2 separate regions of the Homo sapiens genome follow, and region 1 is linked to region 2. Evidence: fine-mapped expression QTL. A gene starts in region 2. The other region holds a variant in brackets. All regions are shown on one strand. Distances are from middle to middle.

Region 1 (4,506 bases), 36 kb before region 2:
GGTGTCACCAGTGCACGGGCTTCGGAGGGTGCTCCCATGGATCCAGATGCCTGAGGGACTCCACCCACTGTGTCACCACTGCCACCCGTAAGTGGGAACAGTGGTGGGCTGGCCACGTCCTTCTTGCCCAGGTGGGAAGATGTGGGCTCAGAGGGTGACAGAGCCAGATCCAGGCACCCAGTAAGTCAGAAGCATAGTGGGGAGTGTCCGCCAGTGATGCCCAGGGAAGGGTATGAGCAAAGGGCCACGTCTGCCCCAGGAGGGCCCGTATGCTTCATGTACCTGGGGCGTCTGACCCTCAGCTCAGTGGCAGATGGGGCAGCAGGGTCTGGGCAAACCAGAGCCTCAGGGAGCTCCATGGTTTCTCTCCTGCCCACTCAGGGGTCCTCAGCAACACCGAGGATTTGCCTCTGGTCACCAAGATGTGCCACATAGGCTGCCCCGATATCCCCAGCCTGGGCCTGGGCCCCTACGTATCCATCGCTTGCTGCCAGACCAGCCTCTGCAACCATGACTGACGGCTGCCCTCCTCCAGGCCCCCGGACGCTCAGCCCCCACAGCCCCCACAGCCTGGCGCCAGGGCTCACAGCTGCCCCTCCCTCGAGACTGGCCAGCCCACCTCTCCCGGCCTCTGCAGCCACCGTCCAGCACCGCTTGTCCTAGGGAAGTCCTGCGTGGAGTCTTGCCTCAATCTGCTGCCGTCCAAGCCTGGGGCCCATCGTGCCTGCCGCCCCTTCAGGTCCCGACCTCCCCACAATAAAATGTGATTGGATCGTGTGGTACAAGCTATGCAGTGAGAGTGGAGTCCTGCCATCCTGGGCTTGGGAGTAGAGTGGAGTAGATTTGGGGGTGCCTCGCTCCCTCACCCCAGGCTAAACCCTACTACCCCACCCCCACTTGCCCTTATCACGGAACAGGCCCTCCCGCCTCCAGCCAACTGTCAGGCCTGAAGGGCACGGGGGCCCAGGCACCCCGGGCAGCTGCTTCTCCTGAAGCAGCTAGAGTGGGAGTTGGGGCTGGGGCACATGAGGAGCCCTCCACCCCAGAGCGTGAGTTGGGAAACCTCAGAAAAAGGACACCCCGGCTGAGACATGGAGGCTGTGCGGGGTGGAGGAAGGGAGGAGGTGCCATTGGCAAAGACGGCTGCAGCAGGCCTTCTGGAATAGGGAGAAGAGTGAGGCGGCATCCTCACCCTCGCCCTCATACATGCCCCTGGGCCAGTGGCCCGGCCTGCCCCTCTCTAGGAAACCCCCAGTTCTGGCAGGGAACACCACCTCCAGCTCCTCTGGGCCACTGGGTACCCAGCACACAAGGCAGGGTGCTGGGGAGAGATGCTGGGAGTGGGATGAATCAGACTGAGGTGATGGGCAGCTGTGGCCACCCATCTCAGGGTGGACATGGAAACTAGGTAAGTGATGTTTGTGGAAGTTGATCACTCCCTAGGCAACATTGCGTCATGGCCGAGCTTCGGGCTGCAAGGTTGAATGAGACCCCCACATAAGCCTGGCACTCCCCTCGGAGAGGCCGAGGTGAGTCAATACCTGCAGCACCCAGATCCCCCCGACTGAGTTAGCACCTGCCAAGAAACACACCGCCAGGCCCTTTCCTTGGCCTTTCTTGTTCTCACCTTGGCAACGTTCTCATGAAGAATCAGCACAGGAGAAAGCTGATGCAATTGTTAAGCTGCTCCACAAGGAGGGGGTGTCTCAGGCAGGGCCGCCGGACACTCAGGTGCAGGACAACTTTCAGAGTAGCCCCGGGCACAGAAGAAGACATAAACAGGGTGCGCTGGAGATACCCAGATAAGCTCAAGAATTGAGGTGACAATGGAGCACTTCTCAGATCTGCAGGAGAGGGACAGGGCTCACTGGCAGCCGCCGTGGAGCACTGTGGAGAGAACAGGATAAGGCTGGATCATCACCTCTCTCGCTACAGCCAAAGGCATGCCAACTGAATGAGAGGTTTCGATGTAAAAAGAGGAGGTTTTTTAATGCTAGATAATTCAGAATAGAAAAGCAAGACACGTTCCTGAAAGGATTGGACAGAGTTGCTGTAAACACAGCAATTCCACCCCCGCCCCCCCACCTGGTCCAAATTCCACCCCCAGGCCAAATTCCACGCCCAGGCATGGCCCAAGAAGAGTAAACACGAGTCCACACAAAAGCCTGTGCACAAACATTCACAGTGGCATTATTCATAGCAGACAAAAGGCGGGAAAAACCCAAATGCCCATCAACTGATGGAGGGATCACAGAGATGACAGACCCACACCACAGAATGTTATTCAGCCACATAAAGGAATGAAGCCCCGACCCACGCCAAAACACGGGAGAGCCTTGAAAACACGCGGGGGGTGCTTGAAAACACGATGCTAAGTGAGACAGAAGCCGCGCACAACAGGCCAAGCAGTGTACAGTTCTATTTCTCAGAAGTGGCCGGAATAGGGAGCTCTATAGGGAGGAAAAGGAGATGAGTGGTTGCTAGGTGGTGGCAGGGATTATTAAGAAATA[C/T]GGAAAGGCCGGGTGTGGCGGCTCACGCCTGTATTCCCAGCACACTGGGAGGCCGAGGAGGGTGGATCACCTGAGGTCAGGAGTTTGAGACCAGCCTGAGCAACATGGTGAGACTCCGTTTCTACTAAAAATACAAAAATTAGCCAGGTGTGGTGGCGCATGCCCGTAATCCCAGCCACTTGGGAGGCTGAGGCACGAGAATCACTTGAACCAGGGAGGCGGAGGTTGCAGTGAGCTAAGATGGTGCCACTGCACTCCAGCCTGGGCAAAGGAGCGAGACTCCATCTTAAAAAGCAAACAAACAAACAAACAAAAAGAAATAGGGAAAAGCCAGAGTACTTTTCCTGCTCTCACACAATACAGTACTTCACCCCATCACCAAAGTGTGTGTATTTCTCTCCACCAGCAACCAAGCCACACTGCCGTGGACACCAACTGGATGTCCTCAATTCAATTCCGACACCATTCCTGTGGCGGTCACGTCAGATCCCGCAGGTGGAGGGCTCAGTGCCACGCAGTGAGCCCCACTTCCAATGCCAGTCGCAAGCCCCAGGTGTGGCCCGTGCTTCTGACCAACCTGCCATGAATCAGGGTTCCCACAACCCCCTCCTCGGGTTTGATGACTTGCTGGAGCGGCTCATAGAACTCAGGGACACACTGAGCCGCGTTTACCCATTTATGACACAGGCTGTGACGAAGGTGTGGACGCACAGCAGGTGGGGGAGACGCGTGGGGCAGGCACAGGGAGGGGCTCAGAGCTTCCAGGCCCTCCCAGTGCCACCCCCAGACACCTGCGCATGTTCTGCTCTCGGAGGCTCCCTGAGCCCTGTCCTTTTGGGAAATTTACAGAGGCTTCATTACGTAGGCATGATGGATTAAACTACTGGCCACTGACCAACCCAACCTGCAGCCCCTCCCCTCCCCTGAAGGCTGGGGGTGGGGCTGAAGTCCCAGCTCTCTAATCCCGTTGTCCCTCATCCTGAAGCTCCCTGGGGACCCCCAGTCACCAGTCCTCTCATTAGCATACAAAAGATGCCCTTGCCACTCCAGAGATTCCAAGGGTTTTAAGAGCTGTATGTCAGGAAACCAAAATATCCATCTCACAATCTCACAAAATAAGCAATGTCAGAAAACCAAAATATCCATCTCACAATCTCACAAAATAACCACTTCACGTTCTCACAGTGAATGGAGCAAAGATAGCGCTGAAGCGTTCAAGGTTTCTTTTCAAGATGATGAAAATGGGCTAAAACTGCGAATATGGTAAAAACCACTGAGTTACCCACTGTAAACGGGTGGATTGTATGGTGCGTGAGAAACCACTGAATTACCCACTGTAAATGGGTGGATTGTATGCTGTGTGAGAAACCACTGAATTAGCCACTGTAAACGGGTGGATTGTATGGTGCGTGAGAAACCACTGAATTAGCCACTGTAAACGGGTGGATTGTATGGTGCGTGAGAAACCACTGAATTACCCACTGTAAACGGGTGGATTGTATGGTGCGTGAGAAACCACTGAATTACCCACTGTAAACGGGTGGATTGTATGCTGCATGACAAACCACTGAATTACCCACTGTAAACGGGTGGATTGTATGGTGCGTGAGAAACCACTGAATTAGCCACTGTAAACGGGTGGATTGTATGGTGCGTGAGAAACCACTGAATTACCCACTGTAAACGGGTGGATTGTATGGTGCGTGAGAAACCACTGAATTACCCACTGTAAACGGGTGGATTGTATGCTGCATGACAAACCACTGAATTACCCACTGTAAACGGGTGGATTGTATGGTGCGTGAGAAACCACTGAATTAGCCACTGTAAACGGGTGGATTGTATGGTGCGTGAGAAACCACTGAATTACCCACTGTAAACGGGTGGATTGTATGCTGCGTGACAAACCACTGAATTACCCACTGTAAACGGGTGGATTGTATGGTGCGTGAGAAACCACTGAATTACCCACTGTAAACGGGTGGATTGGATGGTG
Region 2 (4,244 bases):
GGCCTTGCTGAGGAAATTAAATTTATGTTCACGTGCTATTTCTTTACGGCACCGGGGAACAAGCGTTTCAAACACAGTTAAGGGAACAAATTAATAATGTTTACTAAAGAGACCCAGACTTGGGAGTGTCCAGATATCCCGATGTCTGGAGAACAAAGGCATTCCTGATTTTGAAACCCCGTCTCTACTAAAAATACAAAAAATTAGCCGGGCGTGGTGGCTGGCGCCGTAGTCCCAGCTAGTGGGGAGGCTGAAGCAGGAGAATGGCGTGAACCCGGAAGGCGGAGGTTGCAGTGAGCCGAGATCACGCCACTGCACTCCAGCCTGGGCGACAGAGTGAGAATCCGTCTGAAAAAAAAAAAAAAAAAAAAGAAAATAGTAATATTGATTCTTGCAAAATATAGTAATTAAGAAAATTACTCCTTTATCACAAACCCTTGTAGCAGATCACATCTCCCCATATATACAAGCATTGCACCTAGGGTGGACGCGTTCCTCCTCTTACAGGAACATGCTACTGGGTCTACGGACCAGCTATTCTTTCACCGCTTTACCTTAATAAACTTGCTTTCACTGTGCGCTGCAGACTCGCCCTGAGTTCTTTCTTACACAAGATCCAAGAACCCTCCCTTGAGGTCTGGATCTGAATCCCTTTCCTGTAACATCAGGACTGAGATGAGACGTTGACCCTCGTCTGCTCGGGAGGCACCTGTCCGAGACCGGAGAGGGCAGTGCCCTAAGGGCACACCAGGGGTGCACAGGCCCTGGCTTCCTGCACGGACGCTCCAGGCAACTTTTCTGGCAACTGGTCTGGCCACATCGGCCTGGTGGCCGTCCCCAGGGCCCCAGGTGCCATGCTGCAGGGGCGGTTCTGCCCTGCTGGGAGGAGCGAGCCCTGGGAGGTGCATGGCCCTCCTCTCTCCAACTGCAGAAAGGCCAGAAGGCTTTCAGCTACTCGGCTCAATACCTCAACCCCAAACCCAGGTGACCAGAACCCAGCCCTTCAGCTCTAAGCTGTGTGAAAGGGGGGCTCAGGTCCTCGGGAACTCCTAGGAACCTCTTCTAACTGATCACCTCTCCAACCTATATTCAGGACCAAGGACCAGAGAGGTCAACACTCCAGCCACAGAACAGAGTACCAGGAGAGAGGAGAGGGGTGAACACGAAACCGTGAGGGGCCAGGTTAAGAAATGGCAGGAGGGAAGCACGCTAAGCCCGACTATGAAGAGTTGATTCGGGGACCCTAGGAACCCCCACGAACAAAGGCATCAGTGAGGAATGCCCCCGGTAGAGAGGGAGGGGCGGGAGCGGTAAGAGGCAGGACTCCAGCAGTATCCGAAAGAGGTGCAGGCAGCGGGCCTTCCCTAGGGGAGGGGGCCAGGGACTAGGAGGAGCCCCCGGAGGTCCCACAAAGGCCGTGCTCCGGGGCCAGGGGCGGGGGCCGCTCACCCTGCGCTGGCACAGGTGCTGCACGACGCGCTCGGGTGAGGTGCCCAGCAGGTGCTGCCGGAAGCGCAGCAGCGCGCACACGAAGCCGTCCCGCAGGCTGACAAAGCGCGCCTCCAGGTAGAACGCGCGGTCGTCCCAGCCCAGCAGGCGGGTGCGCACCTCGAAGGGCTCCAGCAGGCGCAGCGAGCGGCGGTGGCGCGCGCACGAGGCCGCCAGCACCGTGTGCGCCCGCAACTCCCTCAGCGCCCCGAGCACCCCGCAGCGGGTCAGGTGCGCGACGCGCGCAAAGTCGGCCTCGCGCAGGTAGCGCGCGTTGTTCATGTGCAGCAGCAGGTCCAAGTCCGAGGGCAGCACGCGGCCCGGGAAGCGCTGCTCAGCTAGCAGGTCACGGACGCGCGGCTGCAGCAGGCGCGCGCGCAGCACGGCGCACGGAAGGCGCACCAGGTACCAGACGTCCAGCAGCGCAAAGACAGCGAGCCCCAGGGCCAGCAACGCCACCAGCAGCCCCAGCATAGCGGCGGCGGCGGGCGCGGGGTCCTGCGGAGTCCGTGGCGCCGGTGCCGGTGTCCGCGGCGCTGGTTACGGTGCCCGCCAGGCCTCCTGGGAACTCACGAGCGCAGCGCGCCCGGAGCGAACCACAGCGCGAGGGCGGCCGAGGGGGAGGGGCCCGGAGCCCCGCCCACCGTGGCGCGACCTTCTCAGCGCCCTACGTGGTCCGTCCCGCCGTCCAGGCCCGCGCCACTTTCGCGTTCCCTGGGGCGGGGCGGGCGGCGCGCTGAGCGCCACAGCGGCACCTGGCGGCCGTGCGCGGCGCTGCAGGCGCGAGGGTGCACGCGCGCCCCGGCGTCTCCGCCTTCCCAGCAGCGCGAGACCCTCGCCAGGCTCTGAAGACGCGGCCTGGCCCTGGCCGTTCGGCCCTTCGTCTGAGCGCAAAGGCTCCAGCACCTCCGCGGCCGAAGCCGCGGGACTTTTCGTGGAAAATGGGACCCAGCCCGATCGCCAGCGGCGCTGCAGCGGACTCTGCGGGAACCTAGCTTCTGCTCCAGGACCTCCAGGGCCACCCCAGCTCGCAGGGCGTTCGCAGCGGCTCAGGGCGAATCACGCTCATGGTCCCCGTGCGCATTTTCAGCCCCAGCCGGTACCTCCTTACTCGCCCTCACGACATTCATTCCACCCCCTAAAGGTCCTGCCAACCCCAGGCTCTTCCCGAGCATTCCCGCCCTTCCTCCCTTTTGAAACCGGAGCAAATCACGGCCGGGCGGAAGCGGGGGAGCCCGGGTGAGAGTCAGTGACTCAGCTGCGGACTCCAAGTGTCGCCGGAGGCCCTGGGGCGCAGGCCCAGCGGGCTGTCGCACAGCTCGGCTGTCCTGTGCCCCTTCCTGACGAGGCTGGGGAGGAAAGGCGGCCCAGAGAAGGCCGGACCAGCTCTCCCCGTCAGCCCCAGGCTCTCGAATGACAGCGGATGCCAGCGACCGGGGATGGGGTCCCGGAATTGCTGGGTTAAACAAGCTCCGGATTCAGGCCTGGGCCTGGGCTGGGGTTCCAGGGTTCTGGACCGCCCTCAAAGAAGGAGCTCCCTGGGGCGGCACCTGGCTCTGCTTGATAGCCCCAGGGACAGGGAGCTCACTACCTATCAGGGCAGCTCCCCCAGTGCCGAGACCAGCTCGGTCCTGGAGACCCTAACCCAGCGGTGCTAGAGGAATTAAAGATACACACAGAAATATAGAGGTGTGGAGTGGGAAATCAGGCGTCTCACAGCCTTCAGAGCTGAGAGCCTCCAACAGAGATTTACCCACGTGTTTATTCACAGCAAGCCAGTGATAAGCACAGTTTCTACAGATTATAGATTAAAAGTACCCCTTAGGGAAACAAAGGGATGGGCCAAAATAAAGGGGTGGGTTTGGCTAGTTATCTGCAGCAGGGGCATGTCCTTAAGTCACAGATGGCTCATGCTATTGTTTGTGGTTTAAGAACGCCTTTAAGCGGTTTTCTGCCCTGGGTGGGCCAGGTGTTCCTTGCCCTTATTCCGGTAAACCCACAACCTCCCAGCGTGGGCATCATGGCCATCATGAACATGTTACAGTGCTGCAGAGATTTTGTTTATGGCCAGATTTTGGGGGCCTATTCCCAACACCCTAGCATTGCTCACACTTGTCCCTGAAGTGTCACCTTGTCGTAGCTGGGCTCTGAGCCCTCTGCCCCAGGGAGGGGTGGCCTTTTGGGCTGAAGGGACTGAGGACATAGCCGTTGAGCCTGTTGGCCATTGCTCAAAGAATGCAGCCTCCTGGTCACCCATGTTGTCCCCTTGCCAACAAAAAGAGTGAAACACTGTGCAATGTTTGAAGAGATTTATTCTGAGCCAAATCTAAGTGACTGTGGCCTGTCACACGGCCTCAGAAGATCCTGAGAACTTGTACCCAGAGTGGTCAGCCTGCAACTGGGTTTTACAAATTTTAGGGAGACATAAGACATCAATGAATACTTGCAGGATGGACATTGGTTTGGTCCAGAAAGGTGGGGACAACTGGAAGTGACAGAGGGACTTCTAGGTCATAGGCAGATTCAAAGATTTTCTGATTGGCAATTGATTGAAAGAGTTAAGTTGACCGGGCATGGTGGGCCATTTCTATAATCCTTGCCATGGGGAGGCTGAGGACCATTTGAGCCCAGGAGTTAGATACCAGCTTGGGCAACATAGAGAGACCTCACTTCTCCAAAAAAAAAAAAAAAAAAAAAGTTATTTTTTAAAGACTTAGCATTAATAGAAAGGAATGTCTGGTTAAGATAAGGGGTCG

The links. PIP is the estimated chance that this variant, and not a neighbour inherited with it, causes the effect. A credible set is the group of variants that fine-mapping cannot tell apart.
Region 1: its variant is the best candidate, but not a certain one, in a credible set for the expression of THEM6 in whole blood (INTERVAL, PIP 0.88).

The regions. Positions count from the first base shown.
Region 1 is chr8:142,760,617-142,765,122 of GRCh38, reverse strand. It overlaps LYNX1-SLURP2 (LYNX1-SLURP2 readthrough), which reads left to right. Exons shown (of 5, transcript NM_023946.5): 4 at 1-87; 5 at 382-785. The coding sequence ends at 518. It overlaps SLURP2 (secreted LY6/PLAUR domain containing 2), which reads left to right. Exons shown (of 3, transcript NM_177458.3): 2 at 1-87; 3 at 382-785. The coding sequence ends at 518. SLURP2-AS1 (SLURP2 antisense RNA 1) reads right to left here and starts at 2,058. Exons shown (of 2, transcript XR_007061134.1): 1 at 1,628-2,058. The variant C/T (reference allele first, on the strand shown) is at 2,511.
Region 2 is chr8:142,725,065-142,729,308 of GRCh38, reverse strand. THEM6 (thioesterase superfamily member 6) reads right to left here and starts at 2,086. Exons shown (of 2, transcript NM_016647.3): 1 at 1,450-2,086. The coding sequence starts at 1,962. LNCOC1 (lncRNA associated with ovarian cancer 1) reads left to right here and starts at 2,336. Exons shown (of 3, transcript NR_038925.1): 1 at 2,336-2,587. RefSeq lists silencers at 1,341-1,590, 1,891-2,330 and an enhancer at 2,361-2,580.